Regions from separate parts of the Homo sapiens genome. Here all the other regions are linked to region 3. The links come from fine-mapping of genetic effects on gene expression. A gene starts in region 3. Each other region holds a variant in brackets. All regions are shown on one strand. Distances are from middle to middle.

Region 1 (7,627 bases), 580 kb after region 3:
GTCACGTCTGTAATTCCAGCACTTAGGGAGGGTGAGGCAGGAGGATCACCTGAGGTCAGGAGTTCGAGACCACCCTAGCCAACATGGCAAAACCCCATCTCTACGAAAAATACAAAAAATTAGTCAGGTGTGGTGGCAGGTACCTATAATCCCAGCTACTTGGGAGGCTGAGGCAGGAGAATTGCTTGAACCCAGGAGGTGGAGGTTGCAGTGAGCCAAGATTTTGCCATTGCACTCCAGCCTAGGAGACAGAGCAAGACTCTGTCTCAAAAAAAAAAAAAAAAAGGCAAAGTAAATAGTGGCTACGATGGGTCTATATGCACCCACATATATATACACACACATATATATACACATATACACACATATATACACACATATACACACACATACACACCTATGCACACACATATATAAACATGCATATACATATACACACATACATACACACACATATGCACACACATACATATATATATATACACACACACATATTAAACATGCATTACCTACCAAATCTGCCATTCCATTTGGTGTTTTGTAAATTGTGTACCATTGAATTCCCTTCCCCCACAAAAAGTACATAGAAATGGTCATTCAGTGGCTGTGGAAAGAAACACTTCTTCCTTCTAGGTCCAATTCTTTCCCTCTCTTTAAATCTTTCCCATGTGATTTAAAATTGTGGGCAGAAAATTATATCTGGGAGCTAAATGATAAGAAGCTATGAACACAAAGAAGGAAACAATAGACAGTGTGGTCTACTTGAGGGGGGAGGTTGGGAGCGGGGAGAGGAGCAGGAAAGATAACTATTGGGCATTGGGGTAATACCTGTGTGATGAAATTATATGTACAACAAAGCCCCATGACATGTGTTTACCTATGTAACAAATCTTCACATGTACCCTCAAACCTAAAATAAAAACTAAAAAAAAGAAAGTTATATCAACCTATTTGCTGCAAAACGGTTTTATTTAGCACACACTATTTGTAAACTCTTAAAAAAACTAAATCAAGGCTGAGAGCGGTGGCTCACGCCTGTAATCCCGGCATTTTGGGAGGCTGAGGCAGGCGGATCATGAGGTCAAGAGATGGAGACCATCCTGGCCAACATGGTGAAACCCCGTCTGTACTAAAACTACAAAAATTAGCCAGGCGTGGTGGCAGGCGCCTGTAATCCCAGCTACTCGGGAGTCTGAGGCAGGAGAATCGCTTGAACCCGAGAGGAGGGTGTTGTAGTGAGCCGAGATCGCGCCACTGCACTCCAGCCTGGGCAACAGAGCAAGAGTCCATCTCAAAAAAAAAAAAAAAAAAGAAAGAAAAGAAAAATCAAATTACACTTTTTGGTGTAACGTTGTCTTCAATATCAATATAAAAAGCAAGTGCAATTTCCTTTCACATAGCATAAAACAGTAACGAAAGAATTATTTTTGCCCCATACTACCTTTAAAAGTATAGTAAAGCCAGGCACAGGGGCATGTACCCGTAGTTCCAGCGACTTGGGAAGGTGAGGGAGGTGGATTGCGTGAGCCCAGGAGTTTGAGGTTGTAGGGTTCTATGATTGCACCTGTGAATAGCCACTGTACTCCAGCCTGGGCAACGTAGTGAGACCCCATTTCTAAAGAAAAAAAATTTAAATAAATAAATAAATGTGTGGTAATGAAATTGAAGGGACCACCATTGCATATATATTTTTTGGGGGGCCAGGTGGTGGGGGTGGGGGATGGAGTCTTGCTCTGTCACCCAGGCTGGAGTGCAGTGGCACGATCTTGGCTCACTGCAACCTCCGCTTCCCAGGTTCAAGAGATTCTCCTGCCTCAGCCTCCTGAGTAGCTGGGATTACAGGCGCCTGCCACCACGCCCGGCTAATTTTTGTATTTTTAGTAGAGATGGGGTTTCACCATGTTGTCCAAGCTAGTCTTGAGCTCCTGACCTCGTGATCCACCCACCTTGGCCTCCCGAAGTGCTGGGGTTACAGGCGTGAGCCACCGCGCCTGGCTCATTGCATATGTTTATGCATGCAAAAGCTTATTTTATTTACTCTTCTAAGTTAAAAACGCTTTTCTATGATACCAAGTGAGAAAAGGGAAATCTATAATCAAACATACAGGCTGGCATGGTGGCTCACGCCTGTAATCCCAGCATTTTGGAAGGCCGAGGCGGGCGGATCATGAGGTCAGGAGATCGAGGCCATCATAGCTAACACGCTGAAACCCCGTCTTTACTAAAAATAGAAAAATTAGCCGGGCATGGTGGTGGGTGCCTGCAGTCCCAGCTACTTGGGAGGCTGAGGCAGGAGAATGGCATGAACCCGGGTGGCGGAGCTTACAGTGAGCTGAAATCACACCACTGCACTCCAGCCTGGGCGACAGAGCAAGACTCTGTCTCAAAAATAAATAAATAAATAAAATAACACATACAATATGACTACAATGATATTAGAAAACTGAAATATACCTAATAAAGGAAAAAGAAGACTAAAAAGAAATACACAAAATCAAGTTGTATGTTACCAAATTTTCCATAATGTAATACTAGTTTTATGAAGAAAAAAGAAACCAAGAAATAACAGATTTTAAGGAAAGACATAATGAAAGTTATTGCATAATACTCTCATTTGGGGGCTGGAACATTAGGAAATAATTTCTGTGGCCCACTATGTACAGTGGCTCCCACAAACTACATCCTCCCTTCGGAAATAGCAGAGCCTTAACTGATTGGCTTCACCCATGTTCAGTCAATGTCAGAATTCAGCCAAGGGAGTATCTTTTTACCTTCTAATAAAACAGAGAAGGGCCAGGTGTGGTAGCTCATGCCTGTAATCCCAGCACTTTGAGAGGTTGAGGCAGATGGATTGCTTGAGTCCAGCAGTTTGAGACCAGCCTGGGCAGCGTGGCGAGACTGCATCTCTACAAAAATTACAAAAATTAGCTGAGTGTGGTGGTATGTGCCTTAGTCTCAGCTACTTGGCAGGCTGAGGTGGGAGGATCACTTGAACCCGGGAGGTGGAGGTTGCGGTGAGCCGAGATCCCACCATTGCACTCCAGCCTGGGCAACAAGAGTGAAATTCCGTCTCAAGAAAAAAAAGAAAGAAACCACCTCACTTCTTCCCAGAGAGCCTCACCTCAGACAGACAGGTCTTTCTTTTTCTTTTTTTTTTTTTTCTTGACCTGGAGTCTCGCTTTGTTGCCCAGGATGGAGTGCAGGAATGCAGTGGCGTGATCTGCGCTCACTGCAACCTTTGTCTCCCAGGTTCAAGCGATTCTTCTGCCTCAGCCTCCCGAGTGGCTGGGATCACAGGTGTGCACCACCATGCCTGGCTAATTTTTTTGTATTTTTATTAGAGATGGGGTTTCACCATTTTGGGCAGGCATGTCTTGAACTCCTGACCTTAAGTGATCCGCCCGCCTTGGCCTCCCGAAGTGCCGGGATTACAGGCGCAAGCCACTGTGCCTGGCCCCTCCCTCTTTCTGTTCTTTTCTTTTCTTTCTTCTTCTTCTTCTTCTTTTTTTTTTTTTTTTTTGACACAAGGTCTCCTTTTGTCACCAGGCTAGAGTGTAGTGGCATGATCATGGCTTATTGCACCTCGACCTCCTGGGCTGAAGCGATCCTCCCACCTCAGCCTCCTGAGTAGCTGGGACCACAGGTGTGCCCCACCATGCCAGGCTAATTTTTTCATTTTTTTTTTTTTAAGAGATGAGGTCTCCCCATGTTGCCCAGGCTGGTCTGAAACTCCTGGGTTCAAGCAATCCTCCCACCTTGACCTCCCAAAGTCCTGGGATTACAGAGTGAGCCACAGCTCCCGGCCACAGGATATATATATATATAT[A/T]TTTTTTTTTTTAGAGAGAGACAGGGGTCTCACTGTTGCCTGGGTTGGTCTCAAACTCCTGGGCTCAAGCCATTCTCCTGCCTTGACCTCCCAAGATGCTGGGATTACAGGTATGAGCCAATGCACCCAGCTTGTGGCCATAGGATTTTGTTTTACTACATAAATCTGGGTTGTAAGTTGCAGCTTTCTCTCTGTTGTTTTATCACTAACAAATTTGGTTGCCAAGGCAACCATGCAGCAATTTAATCTCTTGACACCCATCCACCTAGGCTGGGGTCAGTGGCAGGAGTTTGGGGTTGTATTTGGTGTTTTGTAAATTCTGTACCATTAAATTCCCTTCCCCCACAAAAAGCATGTAGAAATGGTCATTCAGTAGCTGTGGAGATTCACAGTTTCCCCTTCTAGTTCCAATTCTTTCTCTCTCTTCTTCCTCCCTGCCAATGAGACATGTGCAAAGAGCCAATCAGAGAAAGAGTAAGAAGGAAGAGTACCTTGTGTCCAGGGAGAGCGTCGGCAGGGAGCAGTGCCTGGGGATGATCTCACATTAAAACCTGGAATTGTAGCCTCTACCGAAAAATTGGAAGGTCTTGCAACACTGGGCCCACAGTTCCTCCGGAGGCTTCTGCTTGGTGCTAAGTAGCAATGACTCCCTCCAGACAGGAGCCACATTCTCCACCAATCACTGCCTCTCACTTACATTTTTGTGCCTGGTCCTGGCAGGCATCTATGTAGACTCTTTTTTTCTTAGTCTTTATTATTCATTTATTTTTGAGGTGGAGTCTCCCTCTGTCATCCAGGCTGGAGTGCAGTGGCGCGATCTTGCCTCACTGCAACCTCCGCCTCCCAGGTTCAAGTGATTCTCCTGCCTCAGCCTCCCAAGTAGCTGGGACTACAGGCGTATGCAATCGCACCTGGCTAATTTTTGTATTTTTAGTAGAGATGGGGTTTCGCCATCTTGGCCAGGCTGGCCTCAAACTCCTGACCTCAGGTGATCCACTCACCTTGACCTCCCAAAATGCTGGGATTACAGATGTGAGCTTTCGCACCTGGCCTAGCCTATTTATTTATTTATTTATTTAGAAAGCAGGTCTTGGCCAGGTGCAGTGGCTCATGCCTGTAATCCCAGCACTTTGGGAGGCTGAGGCGGGTGGATCACAAAGTCAGGAGTTTGAGACCAGCCTGGCCAATAGGGTGAAACCCCGTCTCTACTAAAAATACAAAAATTAGTCGGTGTGGTGGCAGGTGTCTGTAGTCTCAGCTACTCAGGAGGCTGAGGCAGGAGAATCACTTGACCCCGGGAGGCTCGGAGGTTGCAGTGAGCCGAGATGGTGCCACTGCACTCCAGCTTGGGCAACAGAGTGAGACTCTGTCTAAAAAAAAAAGAAAAGAAAGTTGGTCTTAGGCTGGGTGCGGTGGTTCACACCTGTAATCCCAGCACTTTGGGAAGCCGAGGCAGGCGGATCACGAGGTCAGGAGATCCAGACCATCCTGGCTAACACGGTGAAACCCCGTCTCTACTAAAAATAAAAAAAATTAGCCGGGTGTGGTGGCATCTGCCTGCAGTCCCAGCTACTTGGGAGGCTGAGGCAGGAGAATGGCGTGAACCCGGGAGGCGGAGCTTGCAGTGAGCTGAGATTGTGCCATTGCACTCCAGCCTGGGCAACAGAGCGAGACTCCACCTCAAAAAAAAAAAAAAAAAAAAAAAAAGGAAAGCTGGTTTTGCTCTGTTGCCCCACCTGGACTGCAGAGGTGAGATCATAGCTCACCTGCAGCCTTGATCTCCCAGGTTCAAGTGATCCTCCTGCCTTAGCCTCCCATGTAGCTGAAACCACAGGCATGTGCCACCATGCCCAGCTAATTTTATTTTATTTTTTGTAGAGATGGAGGTCTCATTATGTTGCCCAGGCTGGCCTGGAACTCCCGGGCTTAAGTAATCCTCTCGTCTAAGCCTACCAAAGGTTCAGGATTGGGATTACAGGCATGAGCCGCTGTACCCCACCTTAGAAAGCTTTTAATTCACTAATTCTCAACTTGAGGTATGATGGAAGAATATTCTCTGAAAGATTTTTCAAACTACTTTTGTATACTGAAAAGACTCTAACACAACTCCTTCCTACCGTCCTTCTTCCCATCCTCTCCCCACACATAATGAAAGTCACCGTCAGAAACCCAAACCTCACTCCTGCCACACTGTCAGTACTGAAGTATGGAATTTCCACCCACAAAGTTTCCCTGATCCTGCAGGAATATGTGTAGACGCTCACTCTCATTTCACACAACAGCATTCACGCCCCCTCCTCTCCAATCCTCACTAGAGTCTGTAACCTAGCAACACAACATCTATTGGGGTAGCAACCTCTCGCCAATTCATTCATCCCTTCAGTAGACATTGAGTGAGCTGCTCCCACGCCTGGGATAGGCAAGCACTCAGAAAAGATTTGTTGAATGAATGAATGAAGACACAGGGATGAATGAGGCCCCAAAGGAGGTCATACTCTGGGAAGGAGAAAAACAGACTAAAGGCCGGGCGCAGTGGCTCATGCCTATAATCCCAGCACTTTGGGAGGCCAAGGTGGGCAGATTACCTGAGGTCAGGAGTTCGAGACCAGCCTGCCCAACATAGTGAAACACCATCTCTAGTAAAAATGCAGAAAATAGCCGGATATGGTGGTGCGTGCCTGCTATGCAGGAGGCTGAGGCAGGAGAATCATTTGAACCCGGGAGGTGGAGGCTACAGTGAGCCAAGATCATGCCATTGTACTCTAGCTTGGGCGACAGAGACTCTGTCTCAGAAAAAAAAAAAAAAAAGAAAAATATACTAAAAAAAAAGTTGTAGGTCGGGCGCAGCGGCTGACGCCTGTAATCACAGCACTTGAGGAAGCCAAGGTGAGTGGATCACCTGAGGTCAGGAGTTGGAGACCAGCCTGGCCCCATCTAAACCCCATCTGTACTAAATATACAAAAAATTAGCCAATGCGTGGTGGTGGGCGGCTGTAATCCCAGCTACTTGGGAGGCTGAGGCAAGAGAATCGCTTGAACCCAGGAGGCAGAGGTTGTAGTGAGCCGAGATTGCCCCGCTGCACTCCAGCCTGGGTAACAACAGTGAAACTCCGCCTCAAAAAAAAAAAAAAAGGCCGGGCGTGGTGGCTCATGCCTGTAATTCCAGAACTTTGGGAGGCCGAGGCGGGCGAATCACCTGAGGTCAGGAGTTCGAGGCCAACCTGGCCAACACGGTGAAACCCCATCTCTACTAAAAATACAAAAATTAGCTGGGCGTGGTGGCAGGCGTCTATAATCCCAACCCCTTGGGAGACTGAGGCAGGAGAATCTCTTGAACCCGGGAGGTGGAGGTTGCAGTGAGCCGAGATCATACCACTACACTGCAGCCTGGCTGACAGAGCAAGACTCCATCTCAAAAAGAAAAAAAAAAAAAAGGGTTGTAATACAGGCCATAACAGATGCATCTGTGCATATGTAAATTGCAAGGAGGAAGCTACTGTCCTGTTTAGGAAAGTCAAGGAAAGGAGAGGGGACATTTCAGTTGGGACTTTTTTTTTCCTTTGAGAGAAAGTCTGAATCTGTCCTTCAGGCTGGAGTGTGGTGGCATGATTTTGGATCTCGGCCCATTGCAACCTCCACCTCCTGGATTCAAGCGATTCTCATGCCTCAGCCTCCTGAGTAGCTGGGATTACGGGTGTGCGCCACCATGCCCAACTAATTTTTGTATTTTTAGTAGAGACGGGGTTTCATCATGTTGGCCAGGCTGGTCTCGAACTCCCAACCTCAGGTGATCCACCTACC
Region 2 (7,627 bases), 40 kb after region 3:
GGCCAACACCTGGGAACATCATTTCCACCTTCCCACCCACATCGGGTCCAACAACTCTTATTTCATCAGCCTCTCGAGTCAGTGTCAAATCTGTTCATCTGCAGAACTGAGACCCCACTTTCTAGATTACCCCTTTCCCCAGCCCCAGGCTGCCCCAACTTTCCTCTCTGTCCCTCCCTACCCCTTGCATAGCCCTGCCAGCCTGCTCTCCAGCAATGCCACTGAGAACCTTTCTTTCTTTTTCTTTTTGGAGATAGAGTCTCCAAAAAAATAGATAGAGGCTGGAGTGCAGTGGCATGATCTCAGCTCACTGCAACTCCCACCTCCCGTGTTCAAGCGATTCTCCTGCCTCAGCCTCCCAAGTAGCTGGAATTACAGGCATGCACCACTACACCCAGCTAATTTTTGTACTTTTTTAGTAGAGGCAGGGTTTCACCACGTTGGCCAGGCTGGTCTCGAACTCCTGACCTAAGGTGATCCGCCTGCCTCGGCCTCCCAAAGTTCTGGGATTACAGGCATGAGCCACCACGCACAGCCCATTAGAACCTTTCAAACATGTCAGCCGCATTCACCCCCCAGCCCCACCCCCTCATTTACAATCCTTCCTTGGCTCCTCGTTGCCAACTGGATGATGTCCTAGCCCCCTGCTATGGTGCCTCAAGCCCTGAGGGCTCTGTCTGGCTCTGGCTCTCCGCGTCTCCTTTCTATGCCCTTCAAGTTCCACTTTCTATTCCTGGAACACACCAAGGTCCTCTCACCTCTGCCTGTACTGCCCCTGCTAAACCTTGATGTGCATTTTGCTTTTCTCCCCACCGCCTCCCTCCCTCTCGGGGATGGAGCAATCCACCCATCCAGACCTTTCCATGCTGGCCCGTCCACGTCATTCTGTCATTCTCTCTGACCTGTTCGGTGGCTCTCCCTGCCCTCTGCTCCAGCTATGGCCTCTTGGCTGATTCTAGAGTGCTGTGCCTCTGTCAGAGCACACTTCTCTCAGGCCCAGCTCGTCCCTCCCCTCCTTCAAATCCCCTTTCACATCCTTTTCCCAGTGGGGCCTCCGAGAGTATCACATCCACTGCTGCACTTCCTCCTCCTTCCCCTACCTTATTTCTCCCCAAGTAGCCTTGGACAACTTTCATCATCTACTTTTAAAATCCGAATTACTGTCTGTCCCTGTCCCAGAACTGTAAGCTCCATGAGGGATTTCTGCGGCTTGTTCTCCTCTGGATCCCCTATGCTTGGCACATGGCATACTTTTTGTTGTTATTGTTTTTGAGACAGGGTCTTACTCTGTTGCCCAGTCTGGAGTGCAGTGCAGTGATCCAGTCCTAGCTCACTGCAGCCTCGATCTCTCAGGCTCAAGCGATCCTCACACCTCAGCCTCCTGAGTAGCTGGGACCACAGGTGCATTACACCATGCCAGGCTAATTTTTAAAATATTTTGTAGGGATGGGATCTCGCTGTGTCTCCCAGGCCAGTTTTGAACTCCTAGCCTCAAGTGGGCCTTCTCCCTCAGCCTTCCAAAGCACCAAGACTGTAGGTGTGAGCCACCGCACCTCGCAAAGAAATACCCTTTTTTGTTTTTTTTTTTTTGGAGACTGAGTTTCGCTCTGTCACCCAGGCTGGAGTGCTGTGGCACAATCTCGGCTCACTGCAACCTCCACCTCCCGGGTTCAAACAATTCTTCTGCCCCAGCCTCCCAAGTATCTGGGACTACAGGCACATGCTGCCACGCCCGGCTAATTTTTTTTTTTTAGACAGAGTCTTGCTCTGTCACCAGGCTGGAGTGCAGTGGCACAATCTCGGCTCACTGGAACCCCTGACTCGCTGGTTCAAGCGATTCTTCTGCCTCAGCCTTCCCAAGTAGCTAGGATTACATGCACCACAATGCCCAGCTAATTTTTTGTATTTTTAGTAGAGACGGGGTTTCACCATGTTGGCCAGGATGGTCTCGATCTTCTGACCTCGTGATCCGCCTGCCTCAGCCTGCCAAAGTGCTGGGATTACAGGCGTGGCCACTGTGCCCGGCCTAATATTTTGTATTTTAGTAGAGATGGGGTTTCACCGTGTTGCCCAGGCTGGTCTCGAACTCCTGAGCTCAGGCAATCCACCCACCTCAACCTTCCAAAGTGATTATAGGTGTGAGCCACTGTGCCCGGCAAGAAATACCTTTTGAATGAATGAAATGAGCTGTATTATCTCCATTTTATAAATGAGGAAACCAAGGCTCGATGAGAAGGGCCCTGCCCGAGGTCACATAGGGAGTTGGTTGCAGAGCAAAGATTTGATTTTGCCATTGGCCCTCTGGTGCCTCCCTGAGGGTGCCTCTCAGCTCAGTGACTCCTGACTCCCACCTGTGCCCTGAGGCTTAGGGGAGGCAGTGCCCACAGGCACAGGGACTTTTTTTTTTTTTCTTGATAGAGTCTTGCTCTGTCACCCAGGCTGGAGTGCAGTAGCATGATCTCAGCTCACTGCAACCTTCGCTGCCTAGGCTCAAGCAATTCTCCTGCCTCAGCCTCCTGAGTAGCTGGGATTACAGGCCCATGCCACCACACCTGGCTAAGTTTTTTGGTTTTGGTTTTGGTTTTGGTTTGGTTTTGGGTTTTTTTTTTTTTTTTTTTTTTGAGATGGAGTCTCACTCTGTCGCCAGGCTGGAGTGCAGTGGTGAGATCTCGGCTCGCTGCAACCTCTGCCTCCCGGGTTCAAGCGATTCTCCTGCCTCAGCCTCCCAAGTAGCTGGGACTACAAGCGCCTGCCACCACGCCCAGCTAATTTTTGTATTTTTAGTAGAGACAGGGTTTCACCATGCTGGCTAGGATGGTCTCGATCTCTTAACCTTGTGATCCGCCCTCCTTGGCCTTCCAAAGTGCTGGAATTACGGGCATGAGCCACCGCGCCCGGCCTAATTTTTGTATTTTTTAGTAGGGACAGGGTTTTGCCATGTTCAGGCTGGTCTCAAATCCCTGGCCTCAAGTGATCTGCCTACCTTGGCCTCCCAAAGTGCTGGGATTATAGATGTGAGCCGCTGCGCCCGGCCACGGGGACTTTTTTTTTGGGGTAGTTAGGATTGGTCTTAGGCAAAGAACCCTTCCCCCCCAATACACGTGCTGAGAAGTTATCCCTTCCTGTCCACCCAGGTTCCCAGTCCCAGCTCTACCCATTTGCCTTGTAACCTGGAAAAGCATCTTTACTAACGTGTGCCTCAGTTTCCTTATGTGTAAGGTGGGGGTAATAGCAGTTCCCATCCCATGGGCTGTCATGAG[C/G]ACTGGATGAGGTGGCACATGGACCCCACCTGGCATGGAGTTGGGGAGCCACACCCTAACTCCCCACCCCAGAGCCTTCTCAAGTATTTTTGGCTCTTGTTTGCTCCCTTCTGGCACTGGAGGAGCATGAACCTTCCTGATCTGTGCGCCCTGCCCTGGCCCAGAGCTGGTGTAAATAAATGCTTAACCCAGCTCATCTTCCAGAACCCTGAAGCGGGGATGAGTACTTCCCTTCCTTAGATGAGGACACTGAGGCCAGAGGGTGAGTAACCAGCTCGAGGTCACAGTGCCGGTCCCTGCTGAGGCTGGCCTTGCACATGGGGCTGTCTAGTGACCAGCCTTGTTCTCCAGAGAAGGGAGGTGCAGCCAGCCTCGGCCATGTGGAAACATTTCTTCAGAGCCTGGGGCAGTCTTAGTGGTAGCCCTGGGCCTACAGAGTGGACGCTGGTGGGGACTCTGGCCTCCCTGGGGCCCACCTACCTGCTGGAAAGCCAGGCCAAGGCTGGCAGGGGGCTCACATCCCTTATCTCTGCTTTTCCATGAGAGGGAAGCAGGCAGGGGTCATTCATTACTTCTCTGTCCTTTAGTCCAGGAAATAGGCTCAGAGAGGTCAGGTGACTTGCCCATGGTCACACAGCTGAGGAGTACAGTAGCCAAGCCTGGCTACTTGCCTTCAGATCTCAGGCTAGGGGGTGTCTGGCTTTATATCTGACATCCTCCCTGGGCCACTTCTCCAAGCTCCATGCTGCTGACCACTGCCTGCCTTTCCGCCCCAGTCCTACCCGGCTCTGACTACAGGGCCATACCAGCCACCCCACTCCTGTGCTCCAGAATCCTCAGCGCCTCTTGGTCCCCCAGGATGTGGTCAGACTTCCCAGCCCGGTCTCGAGACCCTCTGTCAGCTGAATGTCCTGCTGGCTGGTTTAGATGTTCAGCTGCCCCTCAGACTGGGCATAGCTGCTCCCCTTTGTGGCCCTCTGAGATGGAGATCCTGGGGGCTGGCGGGGAGAATGTCCCCCTGCTCCACGTTTGCGGAGCTGCTGCCAGAGTTCCTGCTCAGAGGGACGGGGCCGGCCTGGGCACTACCTAGTCCCCAGCCCAGCCGCGTCTTTGCATGCTGGGTGCTCTGCCATGCCTGGCATCCTGCTGCCCTCTGTGAATGCCCACAGCCACCTCCTCACAGGTCTCCTGCTCTCAGCTCCCATGCTCATTTCTGAGTATTTGCTTTGTTGAGCTGGTTACAGATAACAGGATCGAGCCCTGCCCTGAGGTGGACACTGATGTGGGATCCAGATTGCCCCGTCTCCTCGCCCTTCCTACTCGTGTCTCTCCTCTGAGGTCTCCTTCAGAAGACCCAGCCCACAGCCCCATTGGCAGCCCCATCCCTTCTGGATTTAGGCCCTGGCTCTGCCACCAGGGCTAGGTGACCTTGACCAAGGCACAACCCCTCTCTGAGCCTTAGTTTGCGCATCTGCACAGTTGGGGGTCCTACCCACCTAGAATGCTCAGCACGCTCACGTGGACTGTGTGCCCAGCCAGGGCCTGGCACACAGCAGGTCCTCTGAGCTGCCATCCGCTCCCTCCCCTCTGCAGAAAGAGAAGATCCGGGAGAAGTTCGTGGAAGCCCTGAAAACAGAGTTTGCTGGCAAAGGGCTGAGGTTCTCTCGAGGTACGTCCACCCTGCAGAGGACCTGGGAGGCCTGGTACAGGGCCCCTCCTCAAACCATCTGCCCCTGCCAAGACCAGGCTGTGGCCCCCAGTAGCTTTAGTAGCCCCTCCCCGGCTCAGGGCAGAGAGGGTGGCTGAGCCCGATGCAGAAAGGGGTTCAGTGTTTACTGGCCCCCAGTTTTCCCCACCTCATACCTCAGAGGTAAACGCCCCATGCCCACCCAGTTTCTCAGGCCAAAAAACCAGAGCCTCTCCCTTGAATGCTCTCCCCCACCCCTTCCCAAGTCCAAACTCCTAGAAGTCACAGGGCCCCCTGTCTGGAATCCCACCGGTGCTCACACTTCCACTGCCAGCAGCTTGTCCCAGGCTCCAACTGACCCTGACACAACTGGGCTCCCCTCTGCCACCTCACCCATTCCCCAGTGGCCAGAGAGGCTGGAGCTGGAGTCATGACATGCCTCTGCCCAAAGTCCTCCCCAGGCTCTTCCTCCCTCTCCATGTGATGCCCAGGGCCTGCCCGTCCTCCCCCTACCTCTCCTGGCCTCCTCCGTTGCTGGGACGCTCGTTCTCTTCCCTGCCTCAGGGGCTGTACTTTGCGCCCCAGCCATCCCCACTCGGCTCAGGTCCCAGCTCATTGCCACCTCCTCAGAGGTCTCCCCTGATCACCCTGGCCGGATGAGCTTCCCCCACCCACTTCATGGTCTTGTTCATTCTCCAACCTGTGTCATAACTTCCTTGAGGATCCTAAGTCTGTCCCGTGTCCTATTCCTGGCCCTCAGTAGGCACTCAAGGGTTGTTGAATGAATGAATGAACAAGCAGCCCTTCTGTTAGCCTTGTCTGCCCCTCCCAGCAGGGAATAACAGTCCCCACCCCTGCCCACAGGAGGCATGATCAGCTTTGACGTCTTCCCCGAGGGCTGGGACAAGCGCTACTGCCTGGATAGCCTGGACCAGGACAGCTTCGACACCATCCACTTCTTTGGGAACGAGACTAGCCCTGTGAGTGTGGCCCACCCCAGGTTTCCCCTAACGCAGTGGACAGTGAGAAGCCAGGTCTGGTGGCTTCTCCAATGCAAATCACCTGAGGTCAAGGCCAGAACATGGGGCAACACAACAGACCTCTTAGGGGGCTCCTGGAGAACAACCATTGCTCACCAGCCCCGTTACACAGATTGGAAAGCTGGGGCCCCAAGAGGCTGGGCACTTGTTCTACATCACACAGCAAGTCAGGGCAGGTCTGACAAGGGGTGAGAAGGTGGGCTTCCTGGCAGTTCTGAAGGGGCAGGAGGAGGGGCAGGTCCGTAGCAGCCAATGTGGAGAGGGACTCCACCTAAATATCCCTCCTCTGCCCATCCTCTGTGTGCAGGGTGGGAACGACTTTGAGATCTTTGCCGACCCCCGGACTGTTGGCCACAGCGTGGTGTCTCCTCAGGACACGGTGCAGCGATGCCGGGAGATTTTCTTCCCAGAGACAGCTCATGAGGCGTGACCGGGGCCCACATCTGTGTGTCGTGACTTCTGAAGAGTTTGGCCTAGGCCTAAAGAGAGGTCCTGGTGTTGGATAGATGCCAGGGCCCCTCCTCTGGCCCAGGACGCCTGCTGCAAGCCCACCCAGATGGGGCCAGAGTCTGTGTGGACAACCGTCCCCAGCCAGTCTGCTCCTAGTGGCACTGGCTTCGTCCTCCCAGGGCCCAGAGTGTTCCCCATGCTCCACCTGGTGGCCCAGGCCACAGCTGCTGCTTGTATTTCGGTACAGAAGAGGTTTCTTTCTGCACCAGGAGGAGGCGTGCTCAAGTATCGGTACGAGATCTAGCCTGCCCTGCCTGCCTGCCCTGGGCGATGAGGTACGGTGGGGAAGGTGCCTATTTTAGAGAACTTTGTCACAGTATTAAAGTTCCCAGAACAAAGTAGGTGTCAGCTGTGTCTGAATGGATAATTGGCCCCAGTCACATGCTGTCACAGCCACTACTTTGCCGACAAGTAAACAGCACAGAGAGGGCAGGGACTTGGCCCAGGTCACAAAGGAAGTCTGATGCAGTCGAGGAGGGGGCCATTGAATCCCCAAAGAAGAGCTGGTTTGGTGTGTCCACCCCCAGCCCCTTCCTTGGGGACCCTGACACAGAGGCAGCTTCAGGCCACGGTGGGTCACAGTTGAGGGTTTATTGCCAGTGTTAGGAAGAATGGGGGGTCTGGGTGGCCAGGGGTCTTGGGAGGAATTCCAAATGAGCACTGCAGGGCCTGTGAGTGGGGAGGAGAGCTGCTGCCCCCCTGCCACCCAGGAGGCCCCAGGGCTGATGCCACCATATCCTGACTGCTAGTGGTGCCTTAAAAGGTGGCCTCCCCACAGGAGGGGAGCCTTGGGGGCCCCCAGGAGTCAGCCCTCACCAACAAGCCCTCTCTCAAGGGGGCCAGGGGCCTTTATTCCTCATGGGACAGGCTGGGCCGTGCCCATTTTAGGGGAGCTGACCACACCTCAGCAGCTCTGGGCTCCCAGATTTTATGTGGTGGGCCCTGGGGCCGGGGGTGGGATGCAGGCATCCCGGCTGATTTCTACCCTGCGGTCTTGGGGCACCTACAAGGCAAGGGATCCTCCTAGACAGTCACTGATCCCCTCATCCTGGGCATTTGAGCCCCCAGTTTTACTCACAGACTGAGTCTCATAAGGGTCCCACCCCTGGCCAGCCCTCCCTCGAACCACG
Region 3 (7,110 bases):
TCCCAGCACTTTGGGATGCTGAGTAGGGCGGATCACAAGGTCAGGAGATCAAGACCATCCTGGCTAACACAGTGAAACCCCGTCTCTACTAAAAATACAAAAAACTGGCCGGGCGTGGTGGTGGGCGCCTATGGTCCCAGCTACTCGGGAGGCTGAGGCAGGAGAATGGCATGAACCCGGGAGGCGGAGCTTGCAGTGAGCCAAGATCGCGCCACTGCACTCCAGCCTGGGCGACAGAGCAAGACTGTCTCCAAAAAAAAAGAAAAAGAAATCAGATACAGTCTGGGCATGGAGGCTCATGACTATAAACCTAGAACTTTGGGAGGCCAAGGCTTGGGGGTATCGCTTGAGGCCAAGAGTTTGAGACCAGCCTGATCAACATAGCAAGATCCTGTCTCTACAAAAAATTAAGAAATTATTGGGAGTTGGCGGCACTTGTAGTCCCAGCTACTGAGGTAGCTGAAGCAGGAGGATCACTTGAGCCCGGGAGTTTGAGGTTACAGTGAGCTACGATGATCTCACCACTGCACTCCAGCCTGTCTCTATTAAAAAATTAAAAAATATATATATTTCATTAGGAAATAAATATTGAAAGATACTTGAAAGAAAAATACAAAAATGTCAAAATGCTGGTAGTGGTTGTGTTAGAGTGGTAGATTATAGCAAATTTTTTTCTTTTTTGTATTTCCTATGTTTCTCACTTTTTTTTTTTTCCTGAGAGAGTCTCATTCTGTCACCCAGGCTGGAATGCAGTGGCGCCATCTCGGCTCACTGCAAGCTCCACCTCCCAGGTTCGCACCATTCTCCTGCCTCAGCCTCCCGAGCAGCTGGGACTACAGGCGACCGCCACCACGCCCGGCTAATTTTTTGTATTTTTTTTTTAGTACAGACGGGGTTTCACCGTGTTAACCAGGATGGTCTTGATCTCCTGACATCGTGATCCGCCCGCCTCGGCCTCCCAAAGTGCTGGGATTACAGGCTTGAGACACCGCGCCTGGCCGTTTCTCATTTTTAATAAAAATATTCAAAATTTTTCTGCTCAGGAGTTAAATTAACCAGTATGAAGATTACATGTACCCCTATTTCTCTTCCTTTGTTTTATGTGTTACTGTGTTGCCTGCACATACACTCCCAAACGTGGAGGCTATAGTGAGGGAATCAATCACTTTCCTGTAACTGTGTTGCTTGCGTTTATTCTTTGGTTGGTGTAGTTATTGCAGGGTGGGGGCATTTTTACACTGAGGTCCTGGAATGGTAACACTACTTTCCTGGATGAGAAGGGTCTCACCTGAACCACTTAAGATGACAAAAAATACCTATGGTCATGGCCATTTATCAGGGACCAAAAGATGTCAAACTACCAGTGTCCAAAAAAAACTTAGGGCACACTAGAGTAAGATCTGCATATAAGAGCCTAGGGTAGCTCTGCGAAGTTCAAAGGAAGAAAAGAATTTCAGAATTATCTGGGAGGAGAAGGGCAGGCCATCAAACAGCAAAGTCCATCCAGCAGAGATAGGCAGGGAAGGTCTTTCTTCCACACACCGAATGGCACTACATGCTGAAGTCACTTACCACTTGCTTCAAGGTTCTCTTCTTGTTCTTCCTCTGCTTCTTCATCGCCCTCGGTTTTGTAATATGACTCCCACCCTGACATGTTGGCTACTGCTCACTAGGCGAAAGACGTTAACGTCAGTAACAGGCAAATTTAAATCGAAAAAATACCGACCTCTAGGTTCTTGTGAGATCTGTTCTAAAAGCTTGGTTAGTAGTGAGGAATGTGGACGGTAAATCCTGCTGCCTCGAAAGCTCGGCAGTCGGACTGCATGTAAATGCGCATGGGGGCCATCCCAGTAGCTGCCTCATCTCAGCTATCCCTCACGTTTCAGGGCCGGCGGCGGCCCGCGGAAGCCAGATCCCGGAGGTCCCGCCCCCGACGCCATTTAGACGGTGAGGGATTCCCGCTCCAGGATTCTATGCTGACTAACGGACCCCCTCGTCCTCAATACCGCCCAAAAACCTCCCCAAATTCCTCAATCACGCCCAATGAGATCTCAAACGCAGACAGGCCTCAAGCGCAGGCGGGCCGCAAGCGCAGGCGGGCCTCAAACGCAGGCGGGCCTCAAACGCGAGGTGCCGCCTCCTTCCCGAGGAAGGAGCGTGGTCTCGAGTCTGTCGCTGCTCCTCGGATTCGCACACTTAAGGCTAACGCTAACCCTCTAGCAAGGCTATGGGGGCGCGCGAGACCGACCGAGCGAAGCGGGACGAGGCCAGGCCTAGCTGGCGAACAACACAAATGGATAACGGCCCGCTTACCTTTGGCGCAGGGAAGCGACCAACTTGGACAGAAGACGACAATCCACGCATGCGCGGGCCCTGTACTCGGTCCCAATCAACGCCCTCTACGTCATCACGCATGTGCGCACTATATCGCGTCAGGCTGGCACGCACACTCCCCAACCAGCTTCTACCTATGTCCCTGACGAAAGCCAACCCATCAGCGAGAGCCCCGCCCCCTTCGGCAAAGCCCCGCCCCTTCCTACGTCAGGACTGTAAGCACATGCGCAAAAGTGCATCCCTGCCCCCGCCCCCTCTTCCGTGTGGGCCCTCCCTGTCCCCTCTCTGTCACCTCACAGTAGTCGTTGCCGGTAGCGGGTGTGGGGGCGCGAGCAGCGCAGGGCGGCCTCTCCCCCACCCCTCAGCCCGGGCCCGGGCTCGGTCCCCCCCTCTCCCTCCGCTTCGCACTCCCGTCGGGTACGGGAAGGTCCAAGCCGCTGCCGGGTGCCCGAGGGCCGTCGTGGCCGCCGTCGCCACGGGTCCCAATGGAGCCGCCGAATCTCTATCCGGTGAAGCTCTACGTGTACGACCTGTCCAAAGGCCTGGCCCGGCGGCTCAGCCCCATCATGCTGGGTGAGGGGGAAGGGGCCAGGTGGGCAGGAGGGCGGGAGCCAGGCCAGAGGGTGGCGGCTGGCCGAGGTGGGGAGACTTGGGCCACGACTCACGGGGAGACACATGGCCAGGAGGATGGAAGAAAAGCCGAGTGGAGAAGAGAGTGGTCTGAAGTTTGGGCCATCTGAGCCCCGCTTTAGCCTCGCAGATACCATCCTCACGTTTGAATTCAAGGGGAAGGGATGGAGGAGTCATGCCTCCACCTTGCAGGGGGCTTGGGCAGAAACCGAGCCCTCGAGAGCCCCTTCGACGAGGGTGTGGGGTAAACCAGCGCTGGATCCCGGCGGGTTCTCTGCCTCGCTCGGGTAGCCCAGTGCACTCCTGCCTCCTTGGCGCGGTGTAGGAAAGGTGAGGATGCCTGCCGCGCGGTGCCCCTCGTGGTGACAGAGACACTGCGGAGGTCGGGTGGCTCTCGGAGAACCTTGTCTCAGTGCCAAAAGGAAGCTCCCTTTGCAGTCCCAGGGATAGGTGGGATGGGGGAGATAGAGCTGCCTAGGGACCCAGCCATCGCCCCCAGGTAGGTCAAGTCAGGATAAGAGGAGCCCCGAACTCCAGAATTCACCAAGCAGTCTTCTCCCCACAGTTTCTAAGTTAATTGCTTTTGCTCAAATGGCAAGAAAGCAGTTTTGGGGGAAGTTTGGATGAGGCTGTGTGAATAAGGATTAGTAAAGAAAGTATTTCGGTTGTGCTCCATTAAACTACTTAACTGGCAGGAGAAAAACCAGCCCTCATTCAGTGACGATCACACCTTATTTCAACTTAAATACAGGAATGTCTTGTGTAACACAGGAATTGTCAGGTTTGTAATTTCGGGTAACAATGAGCAGGAAAGAATTCCAATTATTGAAAATTGAAGCTTTGACAGCATCCATTTGAATGGCTAGTTTTTCCTGGCTTCTGTGGAGACACTGGCGAATGATTTAGTTCATCTCTGTGAGACGAGGGGGCAGAGATCAAGTAAGGGAGGCTACTTTTGAGGGCATCCTTCAATGTCCTTGAGTTTCTAATATGTCGTAGTGAATTGAACTTAATCTCACAACCGTGGGTCCATGAGTTGTTTCTATATTTGGCTTCACATCAAAATCATCTAGGGTGCTTGTTAAAAATGCAGATACCCTCATTTCCAACATATATTGTAAATGAGATTAGAAAAAACAAGGTTAGAATAGCTCTTTAAATATGCAAATCAAAGGATATATATGTGCTTGCTTAGGCAAATAATTATCCGTAAGGATACACAAGAAATTGATAACAGCAGTAGCTTATGGAAAGGGGAACTTGATGCCAGGGGAACAGGGGTAGAAGAGAAACTTTGCTGTAAACTGTTTCTTACCTCTGGACCTGTGTATTACATACACATAATATCTATTTAAAATGAGAAAATTTTAATTATATGGATTCTAAGGCTTCACAAATACTAAATCAGAATCTCCTGGAGTTTTGGTCCAAAAATCTGTATTTTTAATGAGCTTATCAGCTAATTCTTATGTAGCCAACCCATTATTTGACAGGGATTTGGGCCTAGATAACCAGTTGTTAAAATGATTGAGGCACATCTGAAAGCAAAACTTACAAAGTCACTGAGGAAGCTGTTACTCATTAATAGATTACATCAGTCAAGTGTTTTTTTTTTGTTGGTTTTTTTTTTTGAGACGGAGTCTCGCTCTGTCACCCATGCTGGAGTGCAGTGGCACGATCTAGGCTCACTGCAAGCTCCGCCTCCCGGGTTCACGCCATTCTCCTGCCTCAGCCTCCCGAGTAGCTGGGACTACAGGCGCCCGCCACCACAGCCGGCTAATTTTTTGTATTTTTAGTATAGACGGGGTTTCACTGTGTTAGCCAGGATGGTCTCGATCTCCTCACCTTGTGATCCGCCTGCCTTGGCCTCCCAACGTGCTGGGATTACAGGCGTCAGCCACCATGCCCAGCCCACATCAGTCAAGTTTTAACTAAACTTCTTGGAATGGAGCCATTTAGTTGTTTGTTTTTTTATCATAGTGAGGAATCAGATATTTCCTATACCCCACGTAAAACCTCCCCCTTTACACTGGGTATTTTTTATCCTATTACCTAATAATTATTGGGCAGCTGAAAGGAGCCTTAGGAGTCATTATTTCATTCATTCAGCAGATGTTTATTGAGCGTCTGCTCTATGCTAGTCAACGTGTTAAGGTAAATGAGGTTGATATAATGAACAAAGATGTTCTTTGCCATCATGGAGCTATCTAATGGGGGAGACATTAAAAATAAATACATAAATAATTAGTTACAAATTGCATAAGTGCCTTCTGCACAGGAAGCACACTGGGTGCTGTGATAGAAAATAACAAGAGAGACCTTTTTTTTTTTTTTAGACGAGTCTTGCTCTGTTGCCCAGGCTGGAGTGCAGTGGGGTGATCTCAGCTCACTGCAACCTCTGCCTCCCAGGTTCAAGTGATTCTCCTGCCTCAGCCTCCAGAGTAGCTGGGATTACAGGCGCATGCCACCACACCTGGCTGATTTTTATATTTTTAGTAGAGACAGGGTTTCACCATGTTTGCCAGGCTGGTCTTGAACTCCTGACCTCAAGTGATCCGCCCGCCTCAGCCTCCCAAAGTGCTAGGATTACAGGCATGAGCCACTGCACCCAGTGAAGAGACCTATTTTAAATAAGGGTATCAAGGGTAGTGACTTTGAAAGTGGGAATTTAGGATGAGGAAGAAGTAGCCACAGGAGGGTAGTAAGGGAGTAACAGTGTTCCAGGTAGGAGAAAGATCAACCTGCCAAAGCCCTGAGACAGGAAAGAGTCTGGCCTGATACTGGAACTGAAAGAAGGCTTTTGTGGAGTGTAGTGGGTGAAGGGGAAAGTGCTGTAACTGAAGATGGAGTAATAGACCTGCCCCCTTCCCACTCCCCGCCCTTTTATATAGATGTAAAGTCCTGGAATGCCTCAGCCAAACATGGGAACATCACCCATTCATTGGGCACATCAGATTCTGATCTGAGGAAATCACCTTGTGTGCTAATCTACTTCTGTCTTCTCTACCTCTTTTTTCCATATTGCTTTTATACCTTTTGCAAAATTAATGAAGAAAGAATTAGCAAAGCTAGTAGTCATTACTTTCTAGAGTTGAACACTTAAGGAAAATAGGCATGGTCTTACTGATTCATCCCATTCAGACAACACAAATCTTGAAGTTGGGTATGTCCCAGTGCTATAAGTAGCCATATATTGATTTCCCATTCCTAAATACATTTGAACCTTTAAAAAATCAATTTGTTTCCTGATTTTTATGATGAATTCTAGAAGTATATTAATAGCCACTATTTATTGAGAGCTTACCATGTGTCAGACCCTTTTTTTCTGAGTACTTTGCGTGCATTATAATCCTCACCACAACTTTGTGAGATAAGTCCTGTTATTGCCTCCATTTTCTTGATTGAAGAACCTGAGAAGTAGAGTGTTAAGGAATTTGCCCCAGGTCCCAGAGCTACTAGGTGGTAGAGCTGGGTTATGAACACAGGCAGTCTGACTTCCAGAGCTCGCGTTCTCTGTCATTTTGAGATACCACCTCTGTGTAATACGTTCCTTTAAAATTGAAGTAAAGTAGATGCCTTCCTGAAGTTTGTAAAGGCATCCTTTGCCAAATGTTTCAAGTTTGGATGAGAAAAAAAGCTGGGTTCAATGTGTATGTGCCACTTACAATCTAGATTTATGATCATGCCTCTTAGTCTCCATTTTCCCAAATTAAATCCATGTGATCTCATCTGCAGTACCCTCTCAGGCTTCAGTTATGTCAGTTCTCCAATGGGAGACCTCATCTAGCTCTGTCGCAGTTCAGGATTAGACTAGATAAAGCCCAAGGTAATTCCCCTTTCCTGAAGCAATGTAAATTCCGTAGTTTTAGCCTGTCCTGTTTTCAGCCTCCTGGAATTGCCTCAAGTGAAGGCATTACTGTTCTATAGCTTTTCATTCACTATGAAAAATGGTCCCAAAATTATCTTCAGCATTCTAATTGAGCAGATAGCCTCATTGCACCTTTTTTCATAGTCACCAATTGCCTAAAATAATTAGCTATTATAAGTGTCCTTCAGTTCCTCCTCTTAATAATTTTGGCTGCTCTTTAAGTTTCTTGACCTCTTTTTGTGCCACAGTACATGCAGAAGTGTGTGTGTGTGTGTGTG
Region 4 (7,627 bases), 610 kb before region 3:
ACCTGTCACAGAGTGCTGTTACACCAATCAGTAGTTATTTATTGTGTTTTTTAGGGTTTATTTTGTTTGTTTGATAACCTCTTTTCCATTTTTTTCCTTGTTGTCTTTTACTTGTTTTTTTGTTTTTGTTTTTGTTTGTTTTTTTGAAGTGGAATCTCACTGTCACCCAGGCTGGAGTGTGCAGTGGTGAGATCTCGGCTCACTGCAACCTCTGCTTCCTGGGTGTACAAGCAAGTGATTCTCGGATTACAGGTGCCTGCCACCATGCCCAGCTAATTTTTGTATTTTTGGTAGAGACAGGGTTTCACCATGTTGGCCAGGCTGATCTTGAACTCCTGACCTCAAGTGATCTGCCTGCCTCGGCCTCCCAAAGTGCTGGGATTATAGGCGTGAGCCACCATGTCTGGTGTCTTTTACTTATTTTATTATTGGTTCAAGTTTTTACCTGAGAGAGGGAAAGAGGGTGGTAATTCTAACAGTGATAATTTTGATTTATATGGTACTTAGCTGTTTGCAGACTTACTGTGGGACATTCCCGTGTGGTGGCAAGGTAGGTTAACTCCACTTTTGCAGGTGAAGAATGTGAGACATATGGGTTAAATAACTTGCCCAAGTCACAGAACAAGTGGCAAGACTAGGAAGTATTTAGATTTCTTAATTCTAAATGTAGTACTTTTTCCAACAGATGACCCAGAAGAATCAATAGAAAACAAATTTAATAGTGGAAGCAATTGTATGTACAAATAAAATTGTATTTTTTGTTCACTTCGCTTACTAAAATAAAATCCTATTTCTAGATGATTTTCTAAACATGTTTTTCTTGGTCTCTTTGTTCAAGTCATTTAGTTTGACTCTAGGTAAGATAGTACTACTCAATGTTCTTTCTGTCACTTCAGGAGAGAGATGGTGTGCACCAGTTGATACCCAATGTTCCCTTGTTCTTCTCCCTGATATTACATCAGAGAAGTCCCCAGTTGAGAAGGGAGGAGGAAAGTTTTATGGTTACTGTTCCTCAAATCTCTTGGGAAAGACAGCAAACTGCTGTCAGGAGTAGTTTTCTTTTGTCTCAGTGTCTGTTACATTTATACATGGCACCCTCCTTATCATAGTTATGGCTTGCACCCTAAAATAAGGTCTAGAGCGACAGACATTTACAAAGTTCTTTTTTTTTTTTTTTTTGAGACAGAGTCTCATTCTGTTGGCCAGACTGGAGTGCAGTGGCACGATCTCGGCTCACTGCAACTTCTGTCTCCTGGGCTCAAGCAATTCTCCTGCCTCAGCCTCCCGAGTATGTGGGACTACAGGCATGCGCCACTATGCCTGGCTAATTCTTGTATTTTTTTTAGTAGAGGTGGGGTTTCACCATGTTGGCCAGGCTTGTCTTGAACTCCTGACCTCGTGATCCGCCTGCCCTGCCCTCCAAAAGTTCTGGGATTTACAGGCGTGAGCCACTGCACCCGGCACAAAGTTCTTATGCTACCGAAATGATCTTTTTGTTCTTCTGACCCTAATTATTAGGTTTTCTGACCCTAAATTAATTTGCTAATTCTTGATGCTCTTCTTGGATACTTAGATGTAACTATTTCACCTTAGTTTGGAGTTAGCATTTTGATGTTTTTAATATATTTGAAATAATCCTGCAAACTATTTTTTGGTTTGGGCTTTTAAGTGGGACGCTCAATCTTCAGAAGGACTTTTAGCTTATGGACACTTAAAAAAAGCAAGAACTAGCACATTGTTTCTTGGTATTTTGGAATTGTGGTGAGTTTGAGGCAACCGTGGAAGTGTAGAGTGTGTTGACTCACCTCCGCTCCTCCTAACTCCTGTGTTCATTTCACAGGAATTAATCGTCCAGACAATATTCCTCCCATGCCTGCATCCCCAGCCATATGGAGAGGACCCCATAAACTGTAAAAAGGTTCATTGGCTTTTATCTGGAGGGGACTAAACCCATAGAACTCGGTTCTGCTTTTTGCTTCATTTGACAGGTTGACCTATGGTGTTGGTACGTCCAGTAAAATCAAGTCTAAATGCTTTGGTTGACTGCATTTCTCATTGCTTTGCTCAGGAAGGCCAAGGACACATTAAAATCTGTTTGTCCCCTCCTATATTTTCTTTCTAAGGTTGTTAGCCAGCACTTTTGTTTTACAGTGTGTTTTTGTTTGGACTCGACTTCTGCTCGTAAATTAGGATGTGGTCAGTTAAGAGCATTTTGAATTTTAAACGTGTCTGTTTCACTGGTTTTGTGTCTCCATGTTTATGTATAGGGAAAGTAAGTTTTCATGTTTTTACATTTTGTTTGTACTAAACTTAAGTGCTTTCTTTCAAGGGCTAGAGGCATTGAAAGTAATTTTAAAAACTCTAAAGAAACCTTTTTATTCTCATTGCTTACATTTTTAATAACAAGTTAGGTAGCTTTTATTCTTCAGAAGTGGGATTTATTATGTAAAGCCACTTTTTGGAAGAGGTGAAAATTAACCTGCCTTTCCTTATGCCTCAGTGAGAGGTGAGGTTCAGAGCAGAGAATGCAGGTAGGGATTATGGAAACCCTTTCTTGGTATTAATTTTCCTCACAGATTAAAACTTTTGGTCTTCATCTGTTACCTTTACATTTGTCAGAAAGAGAATTTATATTGTCAACTTAATTCACCCAGTGTTCGATTGCTTGCTCTGTGCGTGGCAGTAAGAGAACTAAGGTCCCACGCTGTGGGGGAAATAGAAGGGTAGATAACTCTGGTAATGCTTATCATGGCTTGTGTTCTAGGAAGGTGTTAAGGGAAAAGTGCGATTTGCACTGGACTTGAAAGGTGAGTGGTATGTCAGCAAAGCTGGTATTATTCACGCAGAAGGACCAGGCTGAACAAACGAAAAGGTGCAGAAGGTGCCTGCTGGGTGTGCTGGGAATACACAGAACATTGCTAAGAACAGTAGAAGTTAGGGCACATTCCTTGTTAGTCCCAGCCTGTCTTCCT[T/C]ACTGACTGGCTGTATAACCTTATGAGAGTTACTAAACTTTCTGAGCCTTTGTTTCCTCATCTGCAGAATGGCTAGTTACTGCATAATAGAGTTAAGATTAAATGAGACTATAATATATTGCATTGCAGCTGGGTGTGATGGCTCACACCTGTAATCCTAGCACTTTGGGAGGCCGAGGCAGGTGGATGACTTCAGGTCAGGAGTCCGAGACCAGTCTGGCCAACATGGTTAAAACCTCGCCTCTACTAAAAATACAAAAATTAGCCGGGTATTGTGGCACAAGCCTGTAATCTCAGCTACTTGGGAGACTGAGGCAGGAGAATTGCTTGAACCAGGGAGGCAGAGGTTGCACTGAGCCGAGATTGCACCAGTGCACTCCAGCCTGGACGACAGAGGGAGACTCTGTCTCAAAACAAACAAAAAATATTGCATTGCACATAATTTAAACACTCAATAAAAGTAGTTGCAATTATTGTTTTCTTTTAAATTTTATTTGTTTTAAAATTAGCATGTTGGTCAAACTAGTTTTTTTTTTTTTTTTTCTTTTTGGAGACGGAGTCTTGCTCTGTTGCCCAGGCTGGAGCGCAGTGGCACGATCTAGGCTCACTGCAAGCTCCGCCTCCCGGGTTGCTGGGACCACAGGTGCCCGCCACCACGCCGTGCTAATTTTTTTGTATTTTTTTTAGTAGAGATGGGGTTTCACCGTGTTAGACAGGATGGTCTCGATCTCCTGACCTCGTGATCCGCCCGCCTCGACCTCCCAAAGTGCTGGGATTACGGGCGTGAGCCACTGCGCCCGGCCGATCGAACTAGTTGCTGAAAGATGACTATGCCCTGTAATCCCACCCCCAAAACATCTGTTGTCAGCAGTTGAATGAATATCAGTCGTCTTTCTAATTTTCATCTCTGGCACCTTTGGTGCTGGTGGTACGTTGTTTTTTTTTTGTTTTGGTACAATCATGCCTCAGTTAACAACAGAATATTTCTAAGAAGTGCATCATTGAGTGATTTTTGTCGTTGTTCTAACATCTTAGGATGTACTTACACACACCTAGCCTGGGTGTAGCCGACTGCCCATCTAGGCTATGTGGTATAGCCTATTGCTCCTAGGATACAAACCTGTACCGCATGTTACTGTACTGAATGCTGTAGGAGATTGTAAAAGAGTGGTAAGTATGTATCTGCATATGTCTAAACATAGAGAAGGTACAGTAAAAATAAGGTATAAAAGATAAGGAAGTTGTTCTGGGTGAGTCAGTGAGTGAATGGTGAATGAAGGTAAAGGCCCAGGACGTTACTGCACACTACTGTAGATGTATAAACACTGTACATTTGGACTACACTAAATTTATTTTTTAAAGTTTTCTTGTTTTGATATTATTAACCTTAGATTACTGTAACTTTTTTTTTTTTTTTTTTGAGACGGAGTCTCTCTCTGTCGCCCAGGCTGGAGTGCGGTGGCTTGATCTTGGCTCACTGCAAGCTCCGCCTCCCGGGTTCACGTCATTCTTCTGCCTCAGCCTCTCGAGTAGCTGGGACTACAGGTGCCCGCCACCACACCTGGCTAATTTTTTGTATTTTTAGTAGAGACGGGGTTTCACCGTATTAGCCAGGATGGTCTTGATCTGCTGACCTTGTGATCCACCCGCCTGGGCCTCTCAAAATGCTGGGATTACAGGCATGAGCCACCAGTCCCTGGCCAGATTACTGTAACTTTTTTACTTTAAAAACTTTAAAAATTTGTAACCTTTTGACTCTTGTAATAACACTTAGCTTAAACCACAAATACATTGTGCAGCTGTTCAAAAATATTTTCTGTCATTGTGTTATTCTATAAACTTTTTTATGATTATTATTAATTACTCTTAGAGATAAGGTCTTACTCTGTTCCAGGCTGGAGTGCAGTGGCACAGTCATAGCTCCCTGTAACCTCAAACTCCTGGGCTCAAGCAACCCTCACTTAAGCCTCCTGAGTAGCTAGGACTACAGGTGCATACCACCGTGCTTGGCTACGTTTTTTTAGTTTTTATAGAGCTGGAGTCATGCTATGTTGCCCAGGCTGGTCTCAAACTCCTGGCATCAAGCAATCCTTTCTCCTCTGCCTCCCAAAAGTTCTGGAATTGTAGGTGTGAGCCACCAGGCCTAGCCACTTTATAAGCTTTTTTTTCTATTTATTATCATTATTTGAGACAGAGTCTTGCTGTGTCGCCCAGGTTGGAGTGGAATGGTGCAGTCTCAGCTCACTGCAGCCTCCATGTCGCGAGTTCAAGCGATTCTCCTGCCTTAGCCTCCCAAGTAGTTGGTACTACAGGCACACGCCATTACACCTGGCTAATTTTTGTGTTTTTTTTAGTAGAGACGGGGTTTCACCGTGTTGGCCAGGCTGGTCTGGAATTCCAGACCCCATGTGATCCACCCACCTTGGCCTTCCAAAGTACTGGGATTACAGACGTGAGCCACCTCACCGAGCCATATTTAAATATTTTTTATTTTTTATTTTTTCACTTTTTAAACACTTTTGTTAAAAACTAAGACACAAACACATGCATTAGCCTAAACCTACACAGGGTCAGAATAATCAATATCACTGTCTTCCAGCTTCACATCTTGGCCCACTGGAAGGTCTTTAGGGTCAGTAACACACATGGAGCTATCATCTCCTATGATAACAGTGTCTTTTGTTTGTTTGCTTTGGTTTTTTTTTTGAGACAGTCTCTCTCTGTCGCCCAGACTGGAGTGCAGTGGCATGATCTCGGCTCACTGCAACCTCCACCTCCCAGGTTCAAGCGATTCTCTGCCTCAGCCTCCTGAGTAGCTAGGACTTATAGGCACATGCTCCCACACCCAGCTTTAGTTAACTATTTTTATAAGTAGAATACATAGTATACATAACATAGAATTCTACATAGGATATGTAAACCAGTAACATAGTTTATTTTCAAGTATTATGTACTGTACATAGTTGTATGTGCTATGCTTTTATACCACTGGCAGTATATTAGGTTTACACTTGCATGACCATAAACAAGGAGGTAATATGTTGCATTATGACAGCTACAGCATCACCAGGCAATAGGAGTTTTTCAGCTCCATTGTACTCTGATGGGACCACCATTGTGTACGTGGTCATTGTTGACAGAAATGTGTTATGTAGCACGTGACTATTTTTATTGCTGTTGCTTCAACTTTAAGGTGTTTGGGAGGCAGGGAAGGGAAAGCTGTGTGGTACACCTGGAAGACAAGTCTGCATGTGCTGTACTAATAATTGGGAGCCAGTGAAGGTTTTAAAATAGGGGGTGAATTAATCAGATCTTTTTCAGTAAGATGCTGAAATGCAAGCTGGATTGGAGGGAAGTCTAGTAGCAGAGCAACAAGTGTTTGCTTGGCTGCTGTTTGAGGACCTTGTAGATGTGAGACATGTTTGTTACATGCCTTCAACAATACATGGCTCAGCTGGGGAGATAAGGCATTCATACCAAGTGGGGAAATAAGGACACAGCCACCAGGTAATGGTGTATGGACAAGAAGTGCTGTAGCTGTTTGGGGAAGGCAAGATCACCAAGCTGAGCCGTTTTCCTGAAGCCTTCAGTGAGGAAGCCAAATGGCCTTGAGGAATGACTCAGATTTGGAAAGTGTTTTGGGGAGAGGCCAAGCACAAATCAAGAGGTCGGAGCGCATGGTCTGTGTGGAGTGGTGGGTTTGGCCAATAGTGAGCAGTATGGTTGGAAAGGAAAATTGCCGTGGCCTTCAACAAACCTGTTGTTACGCACCCTATCTTCTGACCCTCTCTCTTCACTGTACTGTACCTGCGTTACTCTCTTGCAGTTTGAGGCTTTTCAGGATAGAACAGTGTCCTAGTTATTTTCCCAGGTCTAGTAAACAGCCCAGCACATAGTAGATGCTTAAAAACAACAATAAAAGAATGATTGGATATTTGCTGTTTATGGAAGTTACAGACTGGATATCCTGCCGTTCCCTTAAACTTAGATCTCAAATAAAATCCTAATATCACCTCTCTCCTTCCCTTTTTTATTCTGTGCTAAGTTTAAACAGGTTAGGTGCCCCTCTGCTCCCACAGCTGTGTGCTTACCTTGCCATTCCATAATTATGGACATCTCTGCTGTGATCATACTGCATGACTCTCACCAGCACGTTGGATGTCCAACATGTCACATTTGCTTGGGACCCCCCCACTGCCTTTCCTCCTTCCTACTTCTTCACTCTCCTTTTCTGGCTTCTTTTCCTCTTCTCCACCTTCTAAATGATAGAGTGATTGCAGGGATCAGTCACTCCAAGTTAGCCTCTAGACCAGTGGTTTTAAATCTTTTTGTTCAGCCATACCAAATGCCGGACAAGTACAAACACACTACACCGTCTTGTGCACACAGACACAACAGAAACAAAAGTTTCACAAAACGGTTCTTATACTTCATGAGCCGTGGACTCTGTTATTTTCCATTCTGCTCTATTTCATTTTTTTTTAAGTGCTGTTCATGACCCACTAAATTGATTTCACAGCCTGCAGTTTGAAAAACTGCTCTGGGTGATCTCATCTACTCTGTTGGCTTTAAATACTACCTCTGTGCTAATGACCTTCCCATTTTTATCTCTACTCCACCTTTCCTTGGAGATCCTGTCGCATTGGCTGTCTCCC

Direction of the effects. Alleles are on the strand shown, and positions count from the first base shown. SD is a standard deviation of normalised expression in the study named. Not every link is listed here.
As copies of A replace T in region 1, the expression in subcutaneous fat of the gene that starts at base 2,616 in region 3 goes up (large effect, 1.7 SD a copy in FUSION).
For the expression in spleen of the gene that starts at base 2,616 in region 3, T is the low allele of the variant in region 4 and C is the other (large effect, 1.0 SD a copy in GTEx).

What was found. PIP is the estimated chance that this variant, and not a neighbour inherited with it, causes the effect.
Region 1: its variant is the best candidate, but not a certain one, in a credible set for the expression of DESI1 in subcutaneous fat (FUSION, PIP 0.68).
Region 2: its variant is the best candidate, but not a certain one, in a credible set for the expression of DESI1 in whole blood (TOPMed, PIP 0.57).
Region 4: its variant is the best candidate, but not a certain one, in a credible set for the expression of DESI1 in spleen (GTEx, PIP 0.85).

What each region holds. Positions count from the first base shown.
Region 1 is chr22:41,035,658-41,043,284 of GRCh38, reverse strand. No RefSeq gene overlaps it. Among named protein-coding and RNA genes, the nearest start is that of SNORD140, 34 kb to the left of the region's middle. The variant A/T (reference allele first, on the strand shown) is at 3,827.
Region 2 is chr22:41,576,108-41,583,734 of GRCh38, reverse strand. PMM1 (phosphomannomutase 1) reads left to right here. Exons shown (of 8, transcript NM_002676.3): 6 at 4,854-4,929; 7 at 5,812-5,927; 8 at 6,295-6,835. The coding sequence ends at 6,417. It overlaps CSDC2 (cold shock domain containing C2), which reads right to left. Exons shown (of 4, transcript NM_014460.4): 4 at 7,069-7,627. Among named protein-coding and RNA genes, the nearest start is that of PMM1, 9.9 kb to the left of the region's middle. The variant C/G (reference allele first, on the strand shown) is at 3,261.
Region 3 is chr22:41,616,549-41,623,658 of GRCh38, reverse strand. It overlaps DESI1 (desumoylating isopeptidase 1), which reads left to right and starts at 2,616. Exons shown (of 6, transcript NM_015704.3): 1 at 2,616-2,907. The coding sequence starts at 2,820. XRCC6 (X-ray repair cross complementing 6) reads right to left here and starts at 2,364. Exons shown (of 13, transcript NM_001469.5): 1 at 2,314-2,364; 2 at 1,573-1,669. The coding sequence starts at 1,654. RefSeq lists a silencer at 2,596-2,865 and enhancers at 2,597-3,198, 4,471-4,530, 4,541-4,610.
Region 4 is chr22:42,228,694-42,236,320 of GRCh38, reverse strand. The region is part of intron 1 of TCF20 (transcription factor 20); the gene reads left to right. Among named protein-coding and RNA genes, the nearest start is that of TCF20, 38 kb to the left of the region's middle. The variant T/C (reference allele first, on the strand shown) is at 2,973.